6 separate regions of the Homo sapiens genome follow, and all the other regions are reported to be linked to region 3. Evidence: microRNA targets listed by miRTarBase, many of them from high-throughput screens and not tested one by one. Region 3 holds a microRNA gene; each other region holds the end of a gene's coding sequence.

Region 1 (4,092 bases), not on the chromosome of region 3:
ATGGAGGTGATGTTTGAGATGAGATGTGCTAGACACAGTGGGGGCTGGGGAGACACTGTCAGGTAAACAGCACCACAAGAGAGCATGGTGTATTCCAGGGCCAGCGTGACTGGAGCAAGGAGGAGTTGCAGGGAGCAAAAGTCTAAAGAGCTCAGCAGAGGTCCGATTACCAGTGACTCTGAAAACCACCTTCAAGTTTGCACTTTAGCCTATGGGCGAGTGAGGCCAGGGTGTTTAAGGAGGAGTGACAGGGTCAGATTTTTGGTTTTGGTGCCTGATGGCCAGTTTGGGAGCCAGATAAAGGGGGACATACTGGGCTGAGACAAGATTGGGAGTCATCAAGAAGCAGGGAGTTGGTTTCTTCAGGGAGGGGAGGGGCTGGTGGGCACCATGGGAACACACAGATTTGGTTATCTGTCATCCCTCACCACAAACTGATCTTTCTTCTTTCCTTAGTTTTAATCAGCTGGATCTGCCTGCCTATGAGAGCTTTGAGAAGCTCCGCCACATGCTACTGTTGGCTATCCAGGAGTGCTCTGAAGGCTTTGGGCTGGCCTAATAAGGCCCTGCCCAACTCCGTGGGGTTTTTTTTACCATTGTTGGACCTGGGGAGGGGGGAGTTAAAAAAAGAACCAGAAAGAAATTGTCAAAAACCAATAAATGAAATCCACCAACTCACCGTGTGTGTCCCAGCTGCCCCATCTTCCCCAGCGCATACCTGTTCCTCTTCTCATTCTCTCCCCGCCGCCTGTTTCCTCACCTTCTCTCCCCTTTCCATGCCGTCCATGATCCCCACCCCATGTGTTTTAAAAAGGCAGTAGCCTTTGCAGGGACCTGTCTGTCCCAACTGTTTGAACAGTGTGCTCCTCAGATTCTGTGTTCAGAAGGATTTGCTGCATTGAGACTTGAAACCTTTGGATAGGGGAAAAAATTATATATATATATATTTTTTTGTTCTGTTTGCATTTCTTAATTTGTGCTTGGAATGTGTTGATGTGCACAGCTAATGATTCAATGCGAGACAAGATTGGCGTCTGTGTTGTGGAGGTTTCAAATAAAGAGCACTCTTCATAACTCACTTTTCACAATGGAGTTTTTTTCAAACTTAAAAAAAAAAACAAAAAACTCTTAAGCACATGCTAGGCATCTGGAGAAAAGATGGATTCTCCAGGAAACCATCCCTGCCCTACCCGCTTGCCCACCTGCCTCCACCACTGGTGCAACTTCCTCCTTCAGAGTCAGTTTCTGCAGTCAGGAGAGATGAGCAGTTCACCAGGAATTGGGGGTGGGGGCATCTGTTTTTTTTTTTTAGAATGGGAGCTGCACTTGGGGATGGTGATGGTGTTAGAGATTGCAGCCCAGGACAAAGCATCACCTTGCTCAAGGGGAACAAACTGCAGCAGGTTGTACAAAACATTCAGAGAGCTCACTTGACCCAACCGAGGGTTTTACTTGGTGAGCCTTTCTAGTAGTCTTGAGTCTGGGGCTCAGTTTTAGATTTTTATTTCATTAATGTTTGTTTATTTCTAATAAATTTTAATAAGCGAGTAATTTAACTAGGTCGCCAGAAGACCATTATTTTTGTTTGTCTATTTTTGTTGTCGTCACTCCCTCTCTCGTCATCTGTCTGCCAGTCTGTTCACAGATCACCTTGTAGTCCCTTGTGGTTTTTACTCCATCCAGTGCTTAAAGCTGATCTAAGGACTTCGATGGTTCCAGCCTTCAAAGAAAAAATAATTTAATAAAAATTTAGTTAGAAAAAATAACCCCAAGTGGTGCTTGCCTTGTGTGGTTTTTCTCATTTTCCTGGGGTGCTACCTCTGAACAGATTGTCCCCTTGACCTTGTCCCAAAGTGTGGGTCTAGGAAAGAAAGGGTGTGTCTTTAACCTGATCCCCTGGTCCTGGAGCCAAGGCTGCTAGCCATTTTCCCCTTTTTTAGTGTTCCCACTCTTTTGTGCCTGGCCCTGCTTTGATGACTGAGAAGGCAGAGGAATTGCCCCATCCGTGTTACTGAGCTTCTAGTAGGGAGGCGAAGACAGTGATTAGTTTTGTGACAGATGAAGAAAGGGGTCTCAGTGCACATAGAAGTGCCTGACCTAGCCTGGAGAGTCAGGGAAAGCTTTCCATCGTCGGTGCACTTGGATTGCAGCCTAAAGCTGAGCAGGAGTTGAGGTTAAGCAGAGAGGGGTCATATAATTCAAGGCAGGAGGAGTTTAGTTGCTTAGAGTCCAGCAGGACTTTAAAATGGAAGAGATACACCAGGTGCGGTGGCTCACGCCTGTAATCCCAGCACCTTGGGAGGCTGAGGCGGGTGGGTCACCTGAGATAAGGAGTTCAAGACCAGCCTGGCCAAAATGGCAAAACCCCGTCTCTACTGAAAATACAAAAATTAGCCAGGCGTGCTGGCGTGCGCCTGCAGTCCCAGCTACTGGCAGTCCTAGCCACCGCGCCAGTCCCAGCCAGGTTCCGTGACTCACGCCTGTAATCCCAGCACTTTGGGAGGCTGAAGCAGGAGAATCGCTTGAACCCGGGAGGCGAAGGTTGCAGTGAGCTGAGATCACGCCATTGCACTCCAGCCTGGGTGACCGAATGAGACTCGGTCTCAAAAAAAAAAAAAGAATAAGCAGAGAGTAGAATTTGTCAATAAGCAGTAAGATTAACTGGTTCTTTGAAATAAAGGTCTGGCAGGTAATTTAAATTTGAAAGTAAAGGGGGGGTTCCTGGGTTGGAGGTTGGGGGTTGGATGTGGAAGCTGGGAGTACAGATGGAATAATCCTATGGGAAATGGAAGCAAATCTCATTCAGTGGGATACTACAAAAATAGAGCATGATCAAGTGTGATTTGCCCCTGGGATATGTGTAGTGTAATATTAATCGCCTCATTGTCAGTTGAGAAATCTTTGTCCGTAGATGGCAAGGCATTTGTTCACATTCAAGAACCATTCCTGGCAACCTTTAAAGGTAAAGCTAGCTTGATAAGGTAGTTTCAGACCAACAGCCAACATCACACTTGAAAGATAAGGTGGCTAATTATCACTATTAGTGCTGTTCTGCTATTCTGCAGTTTTCTATTTCAGTAAAACAGGAAACAAAAGGTATAACTTAAACCATTTGCTAACGGAGTCAAAAGTTATTGGAGCAGGGCATGGTGGCTCATGCTTGGAATCCCAAGGCTTTCAGAGGCCAAGGTGGGAGGATTGCTTGAGCTCAGGAATTCAAGACCAGCCTGGGCAACATAGCAAGACCTCTCTACTGAAATTTTTTTTTAATCTAGGCATGGTGGCACACACCTGTAGTCCCAGCTACTCGGGAAGCTGAGGTGGGATGATCGCTTGAGCCCCAAAAATCGAGGCTGCAATGAGCTATGATCACGCCATTGCACTCCGGCCTGGGAGACAGCGAGACCCCGTCTAAAAAAAAAAAAGTATTGGAACTTAAAACAGTCTAGCAAGAAACTTGGCTATAATGAACAAACTATTCACATAAACTTATTACCTAACATAAATGAATTGTGACAAATTCCTACAATGGAATCCTACACAGTAGTAAAAATATCAATTGCATACATCACATGCACAATCTCAATGATAAAGTTTCAGGCTGGGCGTGGTGGTGCGTGCCTGTAGTCCCAGCTACTTGGGAAGCTGAGGCGGGAGTATCACTTGATCCTAGGAGAGAGGTCAAGGCTGCAGTGAGCTGAGATCATACCGCTGCACTCTAGCCTGGGTAGCAAGTGAGACCCTATCTCAAAAAAAGAAAAAGTTTCAGGAGGGTACATACATATAAGACCTGCTCAAAAGTTGCAAAATCATGCAACATGTATGAAGAGTATGAAAAACCATGAGGATGATAAAATCTTGCACAATGTTGAGGATAAGTTATGGGACAATGCAGGGGTAGACAGAGGGGATGTGGCTGGGAAGAGGCACGTTACACAGGGCTTCAACTACATTGGTGATGTTTTCTCTCTTTTTTTTTTCGAGTCAGAGTCTTGCTTTGTCACCCAGGCAGGAGTGTGGTGGCGCATGATCGGCTCACTGCAACCTCCACCTCCCAGGTTCAAAAGATTCTCCTGCCTCAGCCTCCCAAGT
Region 2 (4,095 bases), not on the chromosome of region 3:
TGGTGGCCCCACGGGGCCTACTGTGTCCAGCGCTGCACCTAGTGAAACCACGAGTCCTACATCAGAATCTGGACCCAACCAGCAGTTCATTCAGCAAATGGTGCAGGCCCTGGCTGGAGCAAATGCTCCACAGCTGCCGAATCCAGAAGTCAGATTTCAGCAACAACTGGAACAGCTCAACGCAATGGGGTTCTTAAACCGTGAAGCAAACTTGCAGGCCCTAATAGCAACAGGAGGCGACATCAATGCAGCCATTGAAAGGCTGCTGGGCTCCCAGCCATCGTAATCACATTTCTGTACCTGGAAAAAAAATGTATCTTATTTTTGATAATGGCTCTTAAATCTTTAAACACACACACAAAATCGTTCTTTACTTTCATTTTGATTCTTTTAAATCTGTCTAGTTGTAAGTCTAATATGATGCATTTTAAGATGGAGTCCCTCCCTCCTACTTCCCTCACTCCCTTTCTCCTTTGCTTATTTTTCCTACCTTCCCTTCCTCTTGTCTCCCCACTCCCTCCCTCTTTGTTTCCTTCCTTCCTTATTTCCTTTAGTTTCCTTCCTTAGCCGTTTTGAGTGGTGGGAATCAATGCTGTTTCACTCAAAAGTGTTGCATGCAAACACTTCTCTTTATTCTGCATTTATTGTGATTTTTGGAAACAGGTATCAACCTTCACAGTTGGGTGAACAAGTGTTGTCCTACAGATGTCCAATTTATTTGCATTTTTAAACATTAGCCTATGATAGTAATTTAATGTAGAATGAAGATATTAAAAACAGAAGCAAATTATTTGAAGCTCTCTAATTTGTGGTACGATATTGCTTATTGTGACTTTGGCATGTATTTTTGCTAGCAAAATGCTGTAAGATTTATACCATTGATCTTTTTTGCTATATTTGTATACAGTACAGTAAGCACAATTGGCACTGTACATCTAAAAATATTACAGTAGAATCTGAGTGTAATATGTGTAACCAAAATGAGAAAGAATACAAGAAATGTTTCTGGAGCTAGTTATGTCTCACAATTTTGTAGAATCTTACAGCATCTTTGATAAACTTCTCAGTGAAAATGTTGGCTAGGCAAGTTCAGTTAAAATATAGTAGAAATGTTTATCCTGGTATCTCTAAGTATACATTTAATTGTACAGAAAATTTACAGTGTAACATTGTGTCAACATTTGCAGATTGACTGTATATGACCTTAATCTTTGTGCAGCCTGAAGGATCAGTGTAGTAATGCCAGGAAAGTGCTTTTTACCTAAGACTTCCTTCTCAGCTTCTCCCATAAAGAGACCCTAATATGCATTTTGATTTGTAATTGGAAATGTAACTTTCACTGAAAGTGTCATGTGATGTTTGCATTACTTTTAACTGCTATGTATAAAGGAAAGTGTGTCTTTTGACTTCATCAGTTATTTCTCTTGTGCACAGAGAAAAATGCATTAAAAATGACTAAAAAAAATAAAAAATTAAAAAATGGATAAATCTTTTCTTTTTGCCTTTTGGCCCTAGGATCGTGTTTAGGAGGATTATCCCACCCCGAGATTATATAAATCTTATCCTATATTTCTCTAACTTATATGGTTTTATTTAGAAAATGTTTTGTCCTGTCTGGAATTATCTTGATGTATGGATTTAGGTATTCTAACTTTTTTGCCCCAAAGGGTTAGCCAGTTGTTAACATATTTACCTTTTCCCCCAACATATGAAATGTCATACATGTATATACTTTATTCTGTGTTTGGATTCCCTTTAGTTCCATTGAACATTGTGGCACCAGTACACCAGCCTGTAGATGAGTTAGAAATGGGACTTTGTATCTTTTAATGTGAGACCTCCTCTTGATCTTTTTTATTTTTTACAATATTCTGACGATTCTGACATGTTTATTTTACCAGATGAATTTTACAGTTAATAGATTCTTCCCCCAAAAATATATTGAGAATTTGGTTGGGATTCTCTTAAATTGATATGACTGTGAGGACTACAGAATTGCATTGCTTTCCAGAAACATGTTGCCTTGTTTCTGAAAAACTTTATATATCCTTCAAGAGAGTTTTACTTAAATCCTATATAATTTGTAATAAATATGTTCCTAGGTAATACAGACATACAGGGAACACGTTGATACTGCTTATTGGAGCTTTTAATATGTTACCTATGTGGTCATTTTTGCTATATAGGAGAAGAATTTATTTGCATCGATTATTTTAAATTGGCAATTTATTGAAATCTATTAATTTTAGAGATATTCATTTGATCCTTTTGAGTTTTTCCAGGTGAGAAATCCTATCAATTATGTTATAATTATATGTTTTCCTTTTCAAAATTTATAACATAATTTCTGACTGCATGGGTTAAACATTTTCATAACAGTGCTAAATAATAAAGGTGGCAGTGGCATTTTTGTCTTGTTTCTCATTTTAGCCAGAATGTGTTTGCTACAGCAATTCCAAATTGTGTTTTGTGAAAAAAAAATATTCTTCTGGGAGACAAGGAAATACATTTGCAAAATGCTGTATACTTTAATCTCTCTTGGAGACTCATTGTGCAATAAATGTTGGCTAGTATTTTTTTTTAATGGGTAGCTTCTTCAATTAAAAAAAAAAAAAACTATTTAACTTTGTGTAACTCAGCATTTTCCGAACTTATTTGAGCACAGAACCACCTTTTTTTTTTTCTTTTAAACACACCTAATACCATTTGGCCTGTCAGTGTTCCTCAGAACACCAACTTAGGAAATGGTGATTTATTATTTCATTACTATATCATGCCAGGTATTTGACATAATCACAAAGTCTGTCATAATAAATTCAGTAATTTTAATGACAGATGATTTTATATGGAAATAAATATAAAATTGTAGGCATAGAAAATAACAAGAAATCAATAGCATAGTAGAAACTGGATATTGGCTGAGGCCTGGCTCAGGCAGTTTAGCAGATCAGTTTCTTTCAAACACTCAAGGAACAGGAAATTATTTTATTAGCTTTGCCAAATGTTTATTTTTAAGTGTATTTTGTTTTCTCTTGGAAAAGATCCACGTCTTTACTTTATTAAGTCTACTATTATTTTGCTTATAACTTCATTTATTTTGGCCTTTTAAAAATTACTTTTAACTGTTCTTCCTCCATCTCTTACATGATGTAATTTCCTCCTATTATGTTGCAGGTTCTTTTTAAAGGCTCTGTTTTTGTTTTGGGTTTTCTTCATCTACTATTGATCCAAGATTTATCCATTTATTCATCATTGAATCAAGAAGGGTATATCCTGACCTGCTATCCCTCCCCCTCCAACAAGAGTGGAACAATTATTTTGTATCCATTCACTGTTTACTGGGTTGTCACCCCATCCAACAAGAGTGGAACAGTGTTTTTGTATCCATTCCCTGTTTACTGGGTTGTCACCCCCTCCCAATGGCTCTGCGATCCAGCAAGATGTGGTAGTAGGGAGGGAGCTAATGCCAGGGGCAAACCCAGCAGGATGACTTCACCCTCAAGACAGCTTTCCTCATTTGCTTTTGTCCTCTGTTTCAGGTACGTGATATCATACATACTTTCTCTACTCGTGTGGGAGGGGAGGGGCAGGGGGCATATACACAACTTGGAAACAAAACCTGTTGGTTCATTAAAGGGGACTTTTGCATCAAGTTGAGATCTCCATGCTAGTTGAGAAACTAGGATCAGGAGACACCTGTATTTGGGTGTGGACAAGCTTGCCCTCTGAGAGAGGACAGCCTGCTCCAAATTATGTTAATCTGCAGTGTCAAAATAGGACCAAATTGACTAATTCCTGTTAGGGCCAAGCCTAGTGATCAGGGTTGAGATGTCAGGAAAGCCATTTGGCCTGTGTCTTATAATTCAAAAAGGGATTCAAATTCAGACTTTTGACACTATCCTAAATGAACTGATAACTCTAGCCACAAAGCCAGACTGACCTGATGTAAATGTTTGTCATACAGCTTAATTTAGTATATGTAAAGAAATTAAATTATTTGGCAAATTTGATATTCCTAATTGAGTATTATTAAAAAAATATACTGAGGCCAGGCACAGGGGCTCGCTCATGCCTGTAATCTCAGTACTTTGGGAG
Region 3 (4,107 bases):
CCCTCTGGTGGCAGTGCTGGGGCTGAAGCCAGGAGCCACCATGAGGCCAGATTCCTGCCTCTTGCACCCCATCTCTGGATGGGCCAGCCCATCCCACACGCTTCTGCTGTGCTTACAAAGTTCAAGTGTGCTGTGGTCACTGTTTCCATGTGGCTATCTGTTTTCAGGATTCTGGGGTCCCCTGCCCCGTCCAGTCTTGGCTGGGAGTTGAGGGAGGGAGGAAGCTTTGAGTTTTTGCTTGTCTCTGCGCTGACCTGGGGACACAGCAACTGCAGGATGTACCTTTGGCATCATCCCAGAGCTGCCAAGTCTGAACTTCTAGGTTTGAACCTGGGAATCTGCATTTTACCAAAAGCTCCCCAGCCGATGCTTACACAGTGAAGCCGAGACCTGCCGCTCTAGCTGATGAGCATGCCCTGCTGGAATTTACCTTTGGGTTAAAATCTGACATATTAGGAGCTTTTTTTTTTTTTTTAAGACAGAGTCTCGCTCTGTCACCCAGGCTGGAGTGCACTGGTGTGATCTGCAACCTCTGCCTCCCAGGTTCAAGCAACTCTCCTGCCTCAGCCTCCCAGGTACCTGGAACTACAGGCACATGCCACCATGCCTAGCTAATTTTTGTATTTTTTTTTTTTTTTTGGTAGTAGAGATGGCGTTTCACCATGTTGACCAGGCTGATCTCGAACTCCTGATCTCAAGTGATCCACCCACCTCAGCCTCCCAAAGTACTGGGATTACAGGTGTGAGCCACCACGCCCGGCCTAAGAGCATTTTTCCCACACTAAAAGATAACACAGTCCAGCTGGCTTGCTTTTTAACCAGAGCATTACAGGGTCACCTGTTTGGAGGAGGAGGACTGAGGTCAGAGCAGGCTCCTGTCAACTCCAACGGGACATTTCACAGTGGCCACAACAGGCTGACCTCTGTGTCCTGTGTCCTGCTGACTGTGTGTGGAGGCCTCAGAGGGGCTCTTTCCCCCTTGCACAGAGAGAGACAGCACTGGCTCATGAGCCTGCTTTTTTCTGCACTACCTTACCTGGAACTCAAGTTTCTGGGACTTCCCATGCTGGGGTAGAGGTGACTTTGATCCTCCTGAAAACAGTCCTTCATGCCCCCACACCCACATGGAAGAGGAACTGTTCCGTGGTGGTCCGTATCCAAAGTCACTAGATCTTGGCCTGGCATAGTGGTTCATGCCTATAACCCCAGTATTTTGGGAGGCCGAGGCGGAAGGATCACTTGAGCCCAGGAGTTTGAGACCATCCTGGGCAACATGGCAAGAACCCATCTCTATAAAAACAACAACAACAAAACAACAAGAAGTCAGTAGATCTTAAAGCACTAGATCTTAAACCCTGTGATGGGCAATTTCCTTGTCAATTTAGCGAGGCTGTGATACCCATGATTCAACCAAACGCTTGCCTGGGTGCTACTGTGAGGTGCGTTGTACATGTGGTCAGCACTGATGATCACTGGCTGTAAGTCAAAGGTTCTCCTCTGCGAGGTGGGTGGGCCTCATGCAATCGGTTGAAAGGCCTCAAGAGCAGAACCGAGGTTTCCCTGAAGAAGAAGAAATCCTGCCTGGGGACTGCAGTGTCAGCTCCTCCGGGGAGCTTCCGGCCTGCTGGCCTGCCCTCTGGATTTCAGACTTGCCTAGCCAGCCCCCACAATCACGTAAGCCGATTCCTTGAAATAAACTTAATCTATATCTCCTTCTGGTTCTGATTCTCTGGCAGAACTCTGATCCTCTCCCTAAACGGTGCCCGGGACGGGGGAGGAGTTGGCGCTACTTCATTGCTTCCCTTTCACGCAGACATGCTGACTTTTCAACCACTGTCCTTTTCGAATTTTTTCTCTTCCAGGGAAGTGCTGACTCTTTTTCTCCTTGTCAATTAGTCCTTTTGGAATCTGTTACTGGTCTCAGCCTTCTCCTCCATCCTCTCTCTTTCATTATTTTTATTTTCATTTTGTAGAGACAGTTGCTGAAGGTGGTGGTCTGGCTATGTTAACCAGGCTGGTTTTGAACTTCTCGCCTCAAGTGATCCTCCTGTCTTGGCCTCCAAAATTGCTGGGATTACAGGTGTGAGCCATCACCCAATTTTTATTTTTAGAGACGGGGTCTCACCCTGTCACCCAGACTGGCGCAATCACAGCTCCCTGCAGCCTCAACCCCTGGGCTCAAGCGATCCTCCTGCCCTGGCCTCTCCAGTAGCTAGGACTACAGGCACGCATGTCACCATGCCTGGCTAATTTTTAAAATTTTTTTGTAGAGATGGAGTCTTGCTAGTTGCCTGGGCTGGTCTTGAACTCCTGGCCTGAAGCGATCCTCCCACCTCGGCCTCCTGCATCCTTTCTTTCCTCCCCACATTTCCTTCTTATCAACAGGTGCTGGGGAGAGGCAGGACAGGCCTGTCCCCCGAGTCCCCTCCGGATGCCGTGGACCGGCCAGCTGTGAGTGTTTCTTTGGCAGTGTCTTAGCTGGTTGTTGTGAGCAATAGTAAGGAAGCAATCAGCAAGTATACTGCCCTAGAAGTGCTGCACGTTGTGGGGCCCAAGAGGGAAGATGAAGCGAGAGATGCCCAGACCAGTGGGAGACGCCAGGACTTCGGAAGCTCTTCTGCGCCACGGTGGGTGGTGAGGGCGGCTGGGAAAGTGAGCTCCAGGGCCCCAGGAGCAGCCTGCTCGTGGGTGCGGAAGGAAAAAGGCACAGGGGCTTGGTGTGGGCGGCTTTTGGCTGGGAGAAGTTTGCACGTAGGGAGAATAGTAGCCAGTGTTTGCAGAGCACTTACTATGCAGGAAGGCCTGTCCTAAGTATTGTAAGTGTATTACATCATGTACAAGTGTCTGTGATTAACCCCGTCTTGCAGAGAAGGAAACAAAAGTACAAACAGAAAATGTAACTAAGCATGCAATTAATAAAAAGGGACCAGGTTTTGAACGCGAGCAATCTGGCTCAAGAATCTGCGCCCAACCACCGGCTCCTGTTCTTAGAGATGAACGTGGAGTCCTGGAGACTGCTCAACATTGTGACTTGACTGTGAGCGTACGCGCTCCCTGTCCCCAGGAGACAGATTTCCAGTGCAATCATAGAAAGTGCCTGTGTGGGCTTCGGGAGATGTGTCTGCCTTGGGGAGAATTTTCCTTTTCAGCTAGAGCCAGGCCCAGGATGTTGACGTCAGTGAGACGCTGGTGACGTTCTCTGCTCCAGTGGCTGATGAGAAAAGTTCCTCCAAGCCAGCTCAGTTGAGAAGAATTAAGTTCTCTGGGTCCCACTGGCTTCACCTACAGATGCCAACTTTGAGGCCAGTGAACTGTGAGGCCAGCTGGGCTGATTGCCATGGCAACAGGAATTGGACCAAAGTCACCGGAGGATGGAGAGGGAAGACACAGTGGTGGCTTCCCCAGGTCTTGGACCACAAGGCACAGCCGTGGCCTCCAGGAACCCTGAGATAACCCGTTAGTGGGTCCTGCACTCCAACAGAGCTCATGCAATCAGCCTCTGGTCCTCACCCTCCTCCCATTGGTGTCGTTGTGCTCTCTAACATTGACATTGAGCAGTGAGTGCTCCAGATCTTGTTCCACTGATTTTTTCCACTGTTCTCCAGTCTAGCACTTTCTGAAATTCATCCAAGCCTAAGAGGTGACGCCAAACGTAAGTGTCTTACACCTCGGACCCCATGGACTAAGACAAGCCTCTGGGGTCCATGTGGCACCAAGGATGGGGCCTTCTAGTACCTTTCACACAGGCCAGGGACAGCACCTGCTGCGACCCCCACCCCCAGCCTCTGCTGCTTCTCCCGTTGCCCTTCCAGCCACTGCCCTGGGCACCTCCCCTGCTCCCGCCTCCCTGCCTGGGCCCATCTTTCTTTGCACCTCACCAATTGCGGGGCTTCCTAGTGCTGGAGGGGAAGGGAGCCTGCTTCCATTCTCACCACTCTGAAAGAAGACCCTGCAGAGAGGTTTTCTGGAATTTGGAGCCTAACCTTGGCCTTGACACAGTCCAGATGAGAAGGCCGTCCCCCAGTTAAGCCAGCCCTCCCTCCCTCTCAATGCTGGAGAGGAAACCAGGCAGCTGGTTGCTTCAGCAAACCCCCTCCCTATGGGAAT
Region 4 (4,105 bases), not on the chromosome of region 3:
CCTCCACCTGCTTCATCTCTTTCTATATGTCTACATATTTTGTTGTTAAACTAATTGAAAGTAACTTTTAGTCATTATGACATTTTATCTCTAAGTACTTTAGCACACATCTCCGAAAACAAGACATTGTTTTACCAATCAGTGGTACCATTATTACAACCAAAAAGACAAAATAGTAGTTATGTACTATCCAATATTAAACGTTTATTCACATTTTGTCAATTGTACCCAAAATAGCTTTTTAACTATTTTCCCCAAACCAGAATCCAAGGCAAAATTTAACATGTTGTGTTTTGTTAAGTCCTCTTAGTCTCTCTAATGGCTTTTGAAGTTTAATTTCTTTAGTCATCTTATCTGACTTAGAAAACTTCATATGACCTAAAAAAAAAAAAAAAAATCTATTTCTGCTCTTTTAAATTATTTATTCACTGGGGTAAGGTTGTATTCAACCCCTTTTCAGTGCTACTCACTCACTTTAGCTTTACATTCTCTTGAGTAGGACTAATAAAAATGGATTACCAGTGTTGTTGTTTTAAATGTTTTCTAACAGAATTTGGCTCACATTTAAAAGTATCTACCTAAAAGCTTGTTTCCTTTGAATCCTGAGATTTTTCTCAGTTTGATTACCATTAGTGTGAATTGCTTTGAGTCTATTTGAAAGGGCCATGCTAGATCAAATGGAATATGTACTTTTGGTGTTTGACAAATGTCTTCTGATTGCCTTCTGTTGCTTTGTTTTAAAGTGAAATTCATTCTTTCTGATCTTTTACAGAGTGAAGTAATTGGGAAACTGTTCATTTGAGGATAAAAAAGGCATTGTATTATATTTTGCCAAATTAAAGCCTTATTTATGTTTTCACCCTTTCTACTTTGTCAGAAACACTGAACAGAGTTTTGTCTTTTCTAATCCTTGTTAGACTACTGATTTAAAGAAGGAAAAAAAAAAGCCAACTCTGTAGACACCTTCAGAGTTTAGTTTTATAATAAAAACTGTTTGAATAATTAGACCTTTACATTCCTGAAGATAAACATGTAATCTTTTATCTTATTTTGCTCAATAAAATTGTTCAGAAGATCAAAGTGGTAAAGACAATGTAAAATTTAACATTTTAATACTGATGTTGTACACTGTTTTACTTAACATTTTGGGAAGTAACTGCCTCTGACTTCAACTCAAGAAAACACTTTTTTGTTGCTAATGTAATCGGTTTTTGTAATGGCGTCAGCAAATAAAAGGATGCTTATTATTCAAACTTGACTTGTTCTAATTTTTATTGAGCTTTAACAGATTTCATTAGTAGTACAGATCATTGTAATTTAGAATACAGCTATTAATTGGCAACCATTCAACAAGATAGGTTTATGTAGCCTCTGTAACCTTTCTAACTGATGCTCTGGGTCCTCTTCAGTTTGGTCCAATGTAAAGTGCCCCAGGAGTGCTGGGGTTTCAGAAAGGACAGAGCAAGCATTTAGGATTTCAGACTAAACACCCACACTTCAGGTAGAGGAGCTCTATTTTTACCATTACTATTTTTTTTTGAAGTAATAATAATTAACTGTTAGTTTTCTTTTTCAGGCACGGTTACACAGTTTACATGTGTTATCTTTTTTGTTGTTGTTGTTGTTGTTACTGTTTTTTTGATACAGAGTCTCACTCTGTTGTCCACGCAGGAGTGCATTGGCACTATCTGGGCTTACTGCAACCTCCACCTCCCGGTTCAAGCAATTCTCATGTAGCTGGGATTACAGGCGCCTGCCGCCATGCCTGGCTAATTTTTGTATTTTTAGTAGAAAGAGTTTTTCACCTTGTTGGCCAGGCTGGTCTCGAACTGCTGACCTCAAGTGATCCACCCATCCCAAAGTGCTCGGATTACCGGTGTGAGCCACTGTGCCCAGCCAATGAAAGTTTTTTTAATAATTTGTTAAAAACACTTCAGATGCTAAATAACCACTGAGAAATATCTTGTGCCATTGAGTACTAAAGTACCCATTAGGCTGCACTGTGGTCATCTTGTTATTTTTGTGCACATAACAGTCATGCTTCTGTCATGGGGCCTCTGCATTTTCTGTTCTCTGGGCTTGGAACTCTCCTCTGGTGTGTCAGCTTTGGCTTGCTCCTTCACTATGTTGAAATCTGCTTAAATGTCACCCTTCTAATTAAGTCTTTCCTGACTGTCCGCTATCCTTCTGCCCTCCCTATTCTGCCTTATTGTCTGTCATACTTGATTTCTACTCTCCTTGTTCCCACCAGTAAGTAAGCTCCACAAGGACAAGAAACATCTCTTTGGTTCTTTGCTGTATCTGTAGCCTGAGACAGTGCCTGATACTTCATTGTGCTCAACTATTTAAATGAGTGAATGGATAAAATTCATTTTTGGAGGTTGAAGATTATCTAAAGTGGTGCTTCCTTACCTTTTCACTTCACTGCACATATAGTATTTCTAAGGCATATAGAAATCAACTGAAGTGACTTCTTATGGCCAGTGAGGACTGGTGTGGGGATTCAAGCTACCTTTTTCTACCTTTGCTGCTTTCAGCAAATCCTTGGGAAATTGATCTGAAGGCCAGATACTACATCATCAGCCTCTTTCCTTTGTCCTTTCCCATTGCCTAAAGGTGCTCATGTTGCTGCCACCTGTAACGAACAAATTCTGCCTTCCAAGTTACAGTGTCTTCTTGCTACTCTTTCTCTCTTCAGAGCTAAGTTCCTCAGAATAATTGTGTAATTCTATTATTTTTTCAACCTTTCTGTATGTTTGAATTAAAAAAAATAAATTTCAAAGGACTCTGGGGACACAGTCCAGTCTCCTGTCAGTTTGTATCCCTTCCCTCAACATCTCAACCTTACAGTCATTCATCTTTTGCCTCTGAAGTAGCAGGAAGTTCATAACATTGCCTTTTCTAACTTGACAGCTGTAACTGTTAATGGTTCTTCTATGACATTATTAAAAGTTGTGTCCCTGATACTTGCATCAATCTGTCCTTTCTCACTACAGAATCACATAGGAAAATCTTATCACACTCTCAGTGATTGTTCAGATATGCAAAGATAATTCTGTGCTCTACGTTCATTCCCCTTACAGTTAAATATTCGCAGCTCCTTAGTTGCACTGAGTGATTAAAGGCCAAACTAGCCTCCTTGCCTCAATCCCCGACTGTCCACCTTCTCCCAGTATATTACAAACCTATCTCCAGGAGAGGAAGGGAGCATCAGAAGAGAAGGAATTCTGTGTCATCAAACTCAAATGGCTCTCCTTGCCACCATCACAGTCAACTGAGGCAGAAAGCCCCAAGAAAATTACACATTGAAGGAAGCTTACAGGAAGAGAATAAAGAATAGTCAGGGGCAGACTTCTTGATCCCCCAAAAGAGAAGAGAGAGACGTGGAAGGGAGGAGTGGGGATGCCTGTGAAGCCGGCCATACCCTTGGGTTTGGCGTAGGAAAACTAATTCATTTCCTGGAGGTAGTGATATTGTGTAAAGCATCGAGGCTTGAGCTGCCTTGCATGCGTTTCACTCTAGCTGCAAGAGGCTATGTGGTGTATAGCTGTGGGCAATAGCTGTGTTGCTCACAGAGTTAGAGCTAGATTTTTCATGTGTCTTGCATCCCGGGACAGAGACTGCATATGGGCACCTGCCACTTGTGGAATCTGCCCAGGATGAGATGTAGGGAGAAGCAGTTACCACCAGAAGGAGGCTGCAGTTATACCCTCGTTTGTTAAGACACGTTTGTCCCTTGACCTCATTCATTTGGGTCCCCAGAAAAGGAAGGGCAAAGGAAGAATGAAAGAAAAGACGATTCCTTGTTGACATTATTAAAGCCAGGGGGCAGATGGGAGATGGGTTATTACACTGGGTTGGACTGGACTTGTATTAACCGAAGTTACAGAACAGCTTTTGGGTCTGCTTAGGATGTGCAGAAGAGGGAGACTCCGCAAAGCAGAGTTGAAGACTATGGTTGGGAAAGGACACTAACTTGTTAGGCTGTTCTGCAACCTGGGTGGTAGATTTTTTTTTCTTGACTACATTTTTGTCATTTTTATTTTCCTAGAAAATCTGGCCATTTCATATTTGTTGGCAGAGTTCTACAAGGCAGCCAACATAC
Region 5 (4,000 bases), not on the chromosome of region 3:
ATTTCCTGTTCAGGGGACAAAACATGTTTAAAATCCATTTAATGCACTAAGGATTCTCAAAAGGCACCAGATTATTTTTTCTTCAACTGTTTTGACTTTTATTGTTGTTGGGTTTCTTTCTTGGAATAGATGGGGAAAAAAAGAATCAAGTGATGATTCATGGAATTGAGCCAATGTTGGAAACACCTCTGCAGTGGCTGAGTGAACATCTGAGCTACCCGGATAATTTTCTTCATATTAGTATCATCCCACAGCCAACAGATTGAAGGATCAACTATTTGCCTGAACAGAATCATCCTTAAATGGGATTTATCAGAGCATGTCACCCTTTTGCTTCAATCAGGTTTGGTGGAGGCAACCTGACCAGAAACACTTCGCTGCTGCAAGCCAGACAGGAAAAAGATTCCATGTCAGATAAGGCAACTGGGCTGGTCTTACTTTGCATCACCTCTGCTTTCCTCCACTGCCATCATTAAACCTCAGCTGTGACATGAAAGACTTACCGGACCACTGAAGGTCTTCTGTAAAATATAATGAAGCTGAAACCTTTGGCCTAAGAAGAAAATGGAAGTATGTGCCACTCGATTTGTATTTCTGATTAACAAATAAACAGGGGTATTTCCTAAGGTGACCATGGTTGAACTTTAGCTCATGAAAGTGGAAACATTGGTTTAATTTTCAAGAGAATTAAGAAAGTAAAAGAGAAATTCTGTTATCAATAACTTGCAAGTAATTTTTTGTAAAAGATTGAATTACAGTAAACCCATCTTTCCTTAACGAAAATTTCCTATGTTTACAGTCTGTCTATTGGTATGCAATCTTGTAACTTTGATAATGAACAGTGAGAGATTTTTAAATAAAGCCTCTAAATATGTTTTGTCATTTAATAACATACAGTTTTGTCACTTTTCAAGTACTTTCTGACTCACATACAGTAGATCACTTTTTACTCTGTGTTACCATTTTGACTGGTCGTCATTGGCATGGGGTGGATATAGGGCATAGGATTACTTGTCTCAGAAGCTGTCATAGAATTTCTTGCTGCCAATTAAAAAACCTGTGTTCTTTACACACTACACGTATAAATATTGTAACTGTTCATCTTTGTTGTTTTATCACTGTAAGCCTGTCAAATCATAGTATCCTAAGCATCTGTAAATGCTAATTTTGCATTTTTGGAAAAACCCATTCCTTCCAAGCTAGTGTTTTTCATTGGCTCCAGGTCTAATTTTTCACTGTGGTCCCTGGCAGCCAGTCTTTTGAAGTTTAAAGATTACCTGTCTCTTGACTGCAGTACCTTTTCTTTAATTTTTACCAAAAATATCCAGAGGTTACTGGAGTTCTTATTCAATATAAGGAAAGTTTGCTGCACTTTATTACCAAGCCTCTGGGATTTTACCAGTCAAACATATTTGTGCATTACATTTCATTTCTTGTGAGCTAGCTGGCTGTCCATATTGAATGTTGACCCATTTGAGTACGCTAAAAGGCTTACAGTATCAGACACGATCATGGTTTTAGATCCCATAATAAAAATGAATGTTTTTCTTATAAAAAATTATACAAATGCTGAAGTGAGATTCTACTATTGTTCATTGCTTCCTTTTCTTTTTCCTTTTGCGATTTTCACTGATTAATAGCACATTTCTTCACAAAATTAGATAAAGTTGGTCAAAGACCAGATATTCTGGAATGGAAATTGTAAAGCTTAATCAAAAAGAATAGCCAGTACAGCATACAATCTCAGAAACTTAGAAGCAAGTAGAAAATAATTGGTTGATGTAAACGAAAGTGCCATTTTAGTAAAGGCAGGAAAAAAATAGCAATATTTGAGTTATGTAAGGATAAAAAATCCACTGACTTGTATTTTTGCACAAGAGGCTGGTCTGAATATGATTGTTCACATTAAGAGTGTTTATTCGTCGGTTCATTTTGGGGATTTTCCCCCTTGATGTTTTGACAGATTGAAGTGAGCTTTAGTGAGCAAAAGGATCAGAATGCAGGGAACACTAAGCTGTGATGAAGAAAGTGTGGTAAAAAGCCAGAGTAGTTTTATACAGACAAAACCAGTGTCAGGCCTTTGCAGTAGGCTTGAGTGAACTTCTGATCTAGATTTGAAAGTAAATTTTATGAAGACATTGCCCATTTTTACTTCCTCATTCATTATTGTACCAGCATCATAGCTTTATTACTCTAATCCCAGGTAAGTCAAGCCTACAATGCCCTAGAGGAAGAGTAAAACCAGAAATTCATGCTGGCTTAAATAATCTATTTTTGTTTCTTTTCATTTGAATATTTAAATTTTATGGTTTATTAAAAAATTAAATAAATGTTGTGTCCGTCTTTATTTAAAACAAGTTACCTGTTGATAAAATCATTAAAATTTCCTTAGTCACAAACTGTCATAAAAGTTTCTTGGAGAAATAGGATGGAGGGATATAGAAGAGAATATAAAAGAAAATTGGAGAAGACCCCCAATATGCCTATTTGACTAATAGTAAATAGTGACCTCCTAGGAAAATACAAATACATTTTTAAATATTGGCATTGTTAACTAGGAACGAGTAAATTCAGATTAAAGTAAGTCATTGTCCTTTATAATGTTGATTTTCATTCGGATGACCTAAATTATGACCATGGAATTCAACTCTAATTGCCATTTTAATAAAGGCAGAAAAAAATAGCAATATTTGAGTTATGTAAGGATAAAAAAATCCACTGACTTATATTTTTGCACAAGAGGCTGGTCTGAATATGATTGTTCACATTAAGAGTGTTTATTCTTCGTTTCAGTTTGGGGAGTTGAACTGATAAGCACCAGGATTTTCTTACAGATTTAGGGACCCGAAGTAACTTGTTTATAGTTTAAGTTGACTTATCAGTCTTTATAGGATGATGAGGTATAAACCGTATTCCAATCTGAGTGTGAGGTGAATTCGTTTAGTGTACTAGTCTTGTTACATTTAACACTGGAAACAAGCTAGGAGTTGATCATTATCTGAGAAAACAATATATAAGCTTTGACATTGTGTGACAGTAGTTTTTAATGGTTATCTTTCTACAGTATTTTTTAATAGGCTATTTGAGGTAACCTTTTCTTCAGTTTTTAGAAATTTGGTTTATGTGGGTCATGCCAGAGAATGACAGTCTCACTTTTATTTATCATACTATTGATATTTAGGTCTGAGGTAAGTTGGGTTTCCTGTTACATGTGCCAGCATGGTTGAAATACAAATGTAAAACCTTGGGGTATGATAGGAAAATCAAGTGTGACCATATTTAGGAATATTTGAACCTATTCATTGTCGATCAATGGATGGAGTCCATCAAAATACCTACTTGCCTGAGTTCTGTCATCCTCTTGTTTCCTAAATATATTTATCTCCTGGTCTGAAAATATTAAAAATTACAGTGATGGTAGAGAGGAAAGAAGAGAGGCATGCCTCTTTTCAGATCATTTGAGATTAAGCGAAAACTTGGACATTATAAAAATTTATTTACTATGTAGCTTTATTTGACAAAAGCATCTTTCACATTATCAATCATGAATTATAAATTTGATTCTTCATGCTTACGAGCAGATATAGTACTACTGTAAAATCTAGTAGGAACAATATAGTAACCATGGAGTGAAAGACTCAATTTTTAGGTCCTTTAGGTAGCTCTTTAAGTACTTAGGTTTTTAAGTGCAAAATCATTTTTATTAACTATGTTACTGTATTAGAATGATATATAGTGAGATAAAGACAAATTTGAAGATTGAGGGATGTCAGTACGCTTTGACGTATAAGTTGACTCCTATGAAAGTGATTAGTTTGGCTTTCCCTCTGTAGCTTTCTCACCTCCACATCTCAAGGATAAATAAAGTACAACCAGGCGTTTTCCATTTTTTCCCCCAGTTCTCAGTGGAGTATATAGCACACAGTTGGTGTTTAGCAAGTGTGGAAAAAAGGATTACTTAATAACTTTATAATGAGTGTTATATTTTTCTGGTAAGAAT
Region 6 (4,107 bases), not on the chromosome of region 3:
CAAGCCTTTCTACGTTGCAGAGTTGTGAGATACCACTTTGTCACATCATTTTTCTCCCTACTTTTTGCTTCTATGGGTGGGATGGTGATCTTTTTTCTTGACCACAGATACTAAAGCTGTTTCAACCGTGCTCCTCTCCTGCAGATCTCTGGGGGAGCCATGGACTCTCAATTACATCCAAACAGTGGAGGCTTCCGCCCTGGGACACCCTCACTGCACCCTTACAGGTAAGACTCGATGCCTGTGGATCACAGAAGTACTTGGAGATGTGTTTCGGGGAGAGGGAAGGGGAAGACACAGTTCTAGGGTACTAGAAGCTAGTGGACTTAAGGCATTGCTAGGACTCTGGCTTCCTAACAGCTTTTCTCCCCACAATTTATTTTCAGATCACAGCCCCTATACCTACCCCCCGGCCCAGCCCCTCCCTCAGCACTGCTCTCTGGGTTAGCTCTCAAGGGCCAGTTTCTGGATTTCTCCACAATGCAAGCTACAGAGCTGGGGAAGTTGCCGGCTGGAGGAGTTCTCTACCCTCCACCTTCCTTCCTCTACTCTCCGGCTTTCTGCCCCAGTCCTTTGCCTGACACATCGTTGCTTCAGGTAAGAGGGGGGCAGGTATTAGATATTGGGGGATAGGGTAGGGAGAATGATTTTGTGGGGGTTGATATATTTCTCCCTGTTTCCCGACAGGTACGCCAGGATCTGCCATCCCCTTCGGATTTTTATTCTACTCCTCTGCAGCCTGGTGGCCAAAGTGGCTTTCTCCCTTCAGGGGCTCCTGCCCAGCAGGTATATTGTATCTTCACACTTCCCCTTCATTTGATTTCTCTGTCCAGTTGCTGGCTTTGATTTTCCCTGGTTTTCTGACATTCCTCCCTGCCCCCAACATGCACACCCAAATTTCTTGTTACAGATGCTTCTACCCATGGTAGACTCACAGCTGCCTGTGGTGAACTTTGGCTCCCTGCCGCCAGCACCACCTCCTGCCCCACCTCCCCTTTCTCTGTTACCTGTGGGCCCTGCTCTGCAGCCCCCCAGCCTGGCTGTGCGGCCCCCACCTGCTCCTGCTACTCGGGTGCTGCCTTCACCTGCCAGGCCCTTCCCCGCTAGCTTGGGGCGAGCAGAGGTAAGGTACAGGAACTGAGGGGCTAGGGAGCGCCAAGACTTGGGAGTAGGGATTCTGTATTTCAAGGTAGGCAGCTCATGATTTTTTTCCCCTCAGCTGCATCCAGTGGAACTAAAGCCGTTCCAGGATTATCAAAAACTGAGCAGCAACCTTGGGGGACCTGGATCATCACGGACTCCCCCAACTGGAAGGTGAAACGGAATAGGGATGTGGACTTTCCAAGTGCTTCCTTACTTTGGAACCAGGGTCTGGATCCTAGGCTTGCCTTAGACGCCCTTCTTCCCTTAGGTCCTTCTCTGGCCTCAATTCCCGTCTCAAGGCCACGCCTTCCACCTACAGTGGAGTCTTCCGCACCCAGCGCGTCGACCTTTACCAGCAGGTGAAGGAGAAACCCTTGTGGCCCCAACTCTAAATTCGAGTTGCCACCTGATTTCCTGTCCTTCCGTCTCATCGCTGACCTCTCACTGTGACTCACTGTTTAACACATGCCTGTCCCCTAGGCCTCCCCACCAGATGCCCTGCGCTGGATACCTAAGCCTTGGGAGCGGACAGGGCCGCCACCTCGAGAAGGGCCCTCCCGACGGGCAGAGGAGCCTGGGTCCCGAGGGGACAAGGAGCCTGGGTTGCCCCCACCCCGCTGAGGGAGTTCCTCTTGCCCCCTACCCCCGGGGCTTGTATATAGATTATAAATATATAAGGGGGAAAGGGGTGGGCGGGGAGGGGTTCTGGGGCTGGGGCCTCACTTCCCCTCCTCCCCCTTCCCCTGGTCCCCTGTCCCTGGGGCTGTTTGTTAAAAAAGAGTAATAAAAGGATTTAAAAAAAAAAACTTCTACAATGATTTGGGGGATGAGTTGTTTGCATTGTCTTAAAGCATGGTGCTGAGTGATCTGTAGTTTCAGTCAGGGAAATATTCATTACTTATTCCAGTGAGCTGTTGAAACTAAAAACATGACCATCGTATTGGATCTTTAAATTTTTGTGAGTCTGGAATTTGGGCTGAGCTCAGCTGGATAAATCTGCTTTTTTGTGCCAGTGAGCGAGGTCAACTGGTTATCAGTCTGCAGCTGACACCTGGGCTGGTCCCAATATGGCTTCCTTTGCATATCTAGGGCCTTGGTGGGACATCTGTAACATTACTGGGTTATCAACCAGTGTCTTCACATGGACTCTCCAGCAGGCCTGTTAAATGTCCGTGAGCTCATGTTCCAAGAGGTCTAGCTGGAATTTTCTAAGCTTATGCCATGCTTAGTTGATAAGAGCACTAAACTAGCCAAGGTAGGGGATGGGGGGGTTTAGAAGGGACTTCAACTGCATCTCAAAGGGACTAGCAAAGAATTTGCAGCCATGGGACTTCAGTTCTTTATGATGAACTAAGGGGAAATCTCTGTTAAGGCCTCAATGTTGGAGCACACTTAAGGGGCTCTTTGAATTGGATAGACCAATTCCAGCATTGTCAAACTAAGTGGGATTTCACATGGTAACGCTGCATGCTAGTTATGCTAAAGACTATACTTAGGTCTGCAGCTGCTCAGAAACTTTTTTTGATGGGTAATTTGAGAGCTCTATGCTAGTGTGCACCTGGAATATGCTCCCAACTCAAAATACAGGTTTTTTATTTATATATAAAGTGCTTTCGCACAAAAAATACAAACATCAGGCTGGGCGCGGTGGCCCACGCCTGTAATTCCAGCACTTTGGGAGGCCAAGGCGGGTGGATCACAAGGTCAGGAGTTCGAGACCAGCCTGGCCAATATGGTGAAACCCTGTCTCTACTAAAAATACAAAAATTAGCCGGGCGTCGTGGCGGACGCCTGTAGTCCCAGCTACTCAGGAGGCTGAGGCATGAGTGAGAATCACTTGAACCCGGGAGGTGGAGGTTGTAGTGAGCCGAGCTCGAGATCGGGCCACTGCACTCCAGCCTGGGAGACAGCAATACTCTGTCTCAAAAAAAAAAAAAAACAAACATCAAAACTGGCTTGTACAATTTAGCGTGCTGAGTAGAACACAACAGTGTTCCAAGGAAGTATTAATTTAAAAAAGTTCACACAAGATTAAGGGACACACTACCTAATGGAGACAATGTAGAGAGAAAGCAGCCAGAAAAATCCGACTTTTATTTCTTAAATACTGTGAAGGAAGAGGGGGGAAACGGTCCCCTGATGAGGAAGGGCCATAGAGCAAAGAGCTAAGGATCATCAGCAAAGGCCCGCTGGGCATTGGGGAAGCGCTGGGGACTGTAGTTGGGGTCTTCCTGCAGTCGTTTTTGTATATCAGACCGGAGCTAAAGAGAAAAAGTAAGCAGGTTGGAGAAACGCTGGCCAAGTCCCCATGATCCCAGCAAGCACACAAGGCCATCCCTCAGAAGCTAACATTTCCCCCCCCAAGCACACTGTCAAATAGCCCGGGGTGGCACTGTCAAGCCTTCCCAGATGCCAAAGGGGAAAACAAATGGTAGCACCAGGCTGACCAGTTCATCGCTGAAGGGATCCAGGGAAGAGGGACCCTAGCCCAACCCCTCCCACTAGACCATCCCTATTCTGCTTCAAGGTGGCACCTGCTGCCTGTAGCTCTCCTGAACCTCTGGTGCCTCCAGGTCCCGGCTCAGGCTCTCGGGGCTCGTCAGGGGCCGAGCTCCGGCTGCCTTAGCTGCCCGGCTCACAGCCTCTGAGAGAAGCAGCTGGGGGCCCTCACCCTGCATCGTCTGGGGGACAGGGGGTTGGGAGGGAAAAGAGGATCAACGTCAGATCCAGTGCCACCATCCGGCTCACCCTTTCCATGAGTCAACCACTCCACTGAGTCTCCATGCTAGTGGAGAGAGGGGAAATTAAGAGTCCAGGATGTGGTTTTTACAGCAGAAATGCCTTCCTAATTCTCTTTGGCACTAGCCAAAACTAAAGTGAATGTGCTTGAACGTGCTCTTCAAAACGAAAGGCAGAAGGGGTCAAGCCATCCGGGATTCAGAGCTAGGTAATCCACAAGAGGAA

The links. The annotated mature microRNA hsa-miR-34a-5p reads UGGCAGUGUCUUAGCUGGUUGU and lies in region 3 at 2,465-2,486, shown strand. An mRNA with a match to its seed (bases 2 to 7 or 8) in the 3' UTR can be bound and repressed. Matches are read on the target gene's strand: a 7mer-m8 pairs with bases 2 to 8, a 7mer-A1 pairs with bases 2 to 7 and ends in A, and an 8mer does both.
Region 1: the mRNA of HUWE1 is a reported target of hsa-miR-34a-5p. The part of its 3' UTR that is shown has no 7-base or 8-base seed match.
Region 2: miRTarBase lists UBQLN2 as a target of hsa-miR-34a-5p. The part of its 3' UTR that is shown has no 7-base or 8-base seed match.
Region 4: the mRNA of KTN1 is a reported target of hsa-miR-34a-5p. The part of its 3' UTR that is shown has no 7-base or 8-base seed match.
Region 5: the mRNA of ATG5 is a reported target of hsa-miR-34a-5p. Seed matches in the 3' UTR shown: 8mer at 462-469.
Region 6: the mRNA of BAG6 is a reported target of hsa-miR-34a-5p. The part of its 3' UTR that is shown has no 7-base or 8-base seed match.

Annotation. Positions count from the first base shown.
Region 1 is chrX:53,529,776-53,533,867 of GRCh38, reverse strand. It overlaps HUWE1 (HECT, UBA and WWE domain containing E3 ubiquitin protein ligase 1), which reads left to right. Exons shown (of 84, transcript NM_031407.7): 84 at 457-1,772. The coding sequence ends at 559. Among named protein-coding and RNA genes, the nearest start is that of MIR98, 25 kb to the left of the region's middle.
Region 2 is chrX:56,565,463-56,569,557 of GRCh38, forward strand. It overlaps UBQLN2 (ubiquilin 2), which reads left to right. Exons shown (of 1, transcript NM_013444.4): 1 at 1-2,406. The coding sequence ends at 286. Among named protein-coding and RNA genes, the nearest start is that of UBQLN2, 3.9 kb to the left of the region's middle.
Region 3 is chr1:9,150,114-9,154,220 of GRCh38, reverse strand. MIR34A (microRNA 34a) reads left to right here and starts at 2,444; the gene lies at 2,444-2,553. MIR34AHG (MIR34A host gene) reads left to right here. Exons shown (of 2, transcript NR_132742.1): 2 at 2,386-4,107. RefSeq lists a silencer at 2,399-2,635.
Region 4 is chr14:55,683,327-55,687,431 of GRCh38, forward strand. KTN1 (kinectin 1) reads left to right here. Exons shown (of 44, transcript NM_001079521.2): 44 at 773-1,253. The coding sequence ends at 777. Among named protein-coding and RNA genes, the nearest start is that of KTN1, 110 kb to the left of the region's middle.
Region 5 is chr6:106,182,806-106,186,805 of GRCh38, reverse strand. ATG5 (autophagy related 5) reads left to right here. Exons shown (of 8, transcript NM_004849.4): 8 at 130-2,330. The coding sequence ends at 266. Among named protein-coding and RNA genes, the nearest start is that of PRDM1, 98 kb to the right of the region's middle.
Region 6 is chr6:31,635,823-31,639,929 of GRCh38, forward strand. It overlaps BAG6 (BAG cochaperone 6), which reads right to left. Exons shown (of 26, transcript NM_001387994.1): 25 at 3,678-3,824; 26 at 3,206-3,404. The coding sequence ends at 3,309. It overlaps PRRC2A (proline rich coiled-coil 2A), which reads left to right. Exons shown (of 31, transcript NM_004638.4): 25 at 145-227; 26 at 387-597; 27 at 688-786; 28 at 911-1,123; 29 at 1,220-1,314; 30 at 1,412-1,502; 31 at 1,624-1,949. The coding sequence ends at 1,764. Among named protein-coding and RNA genes, the nearest start is that of MIR6832, 4.1 kb to the left of the region's middle.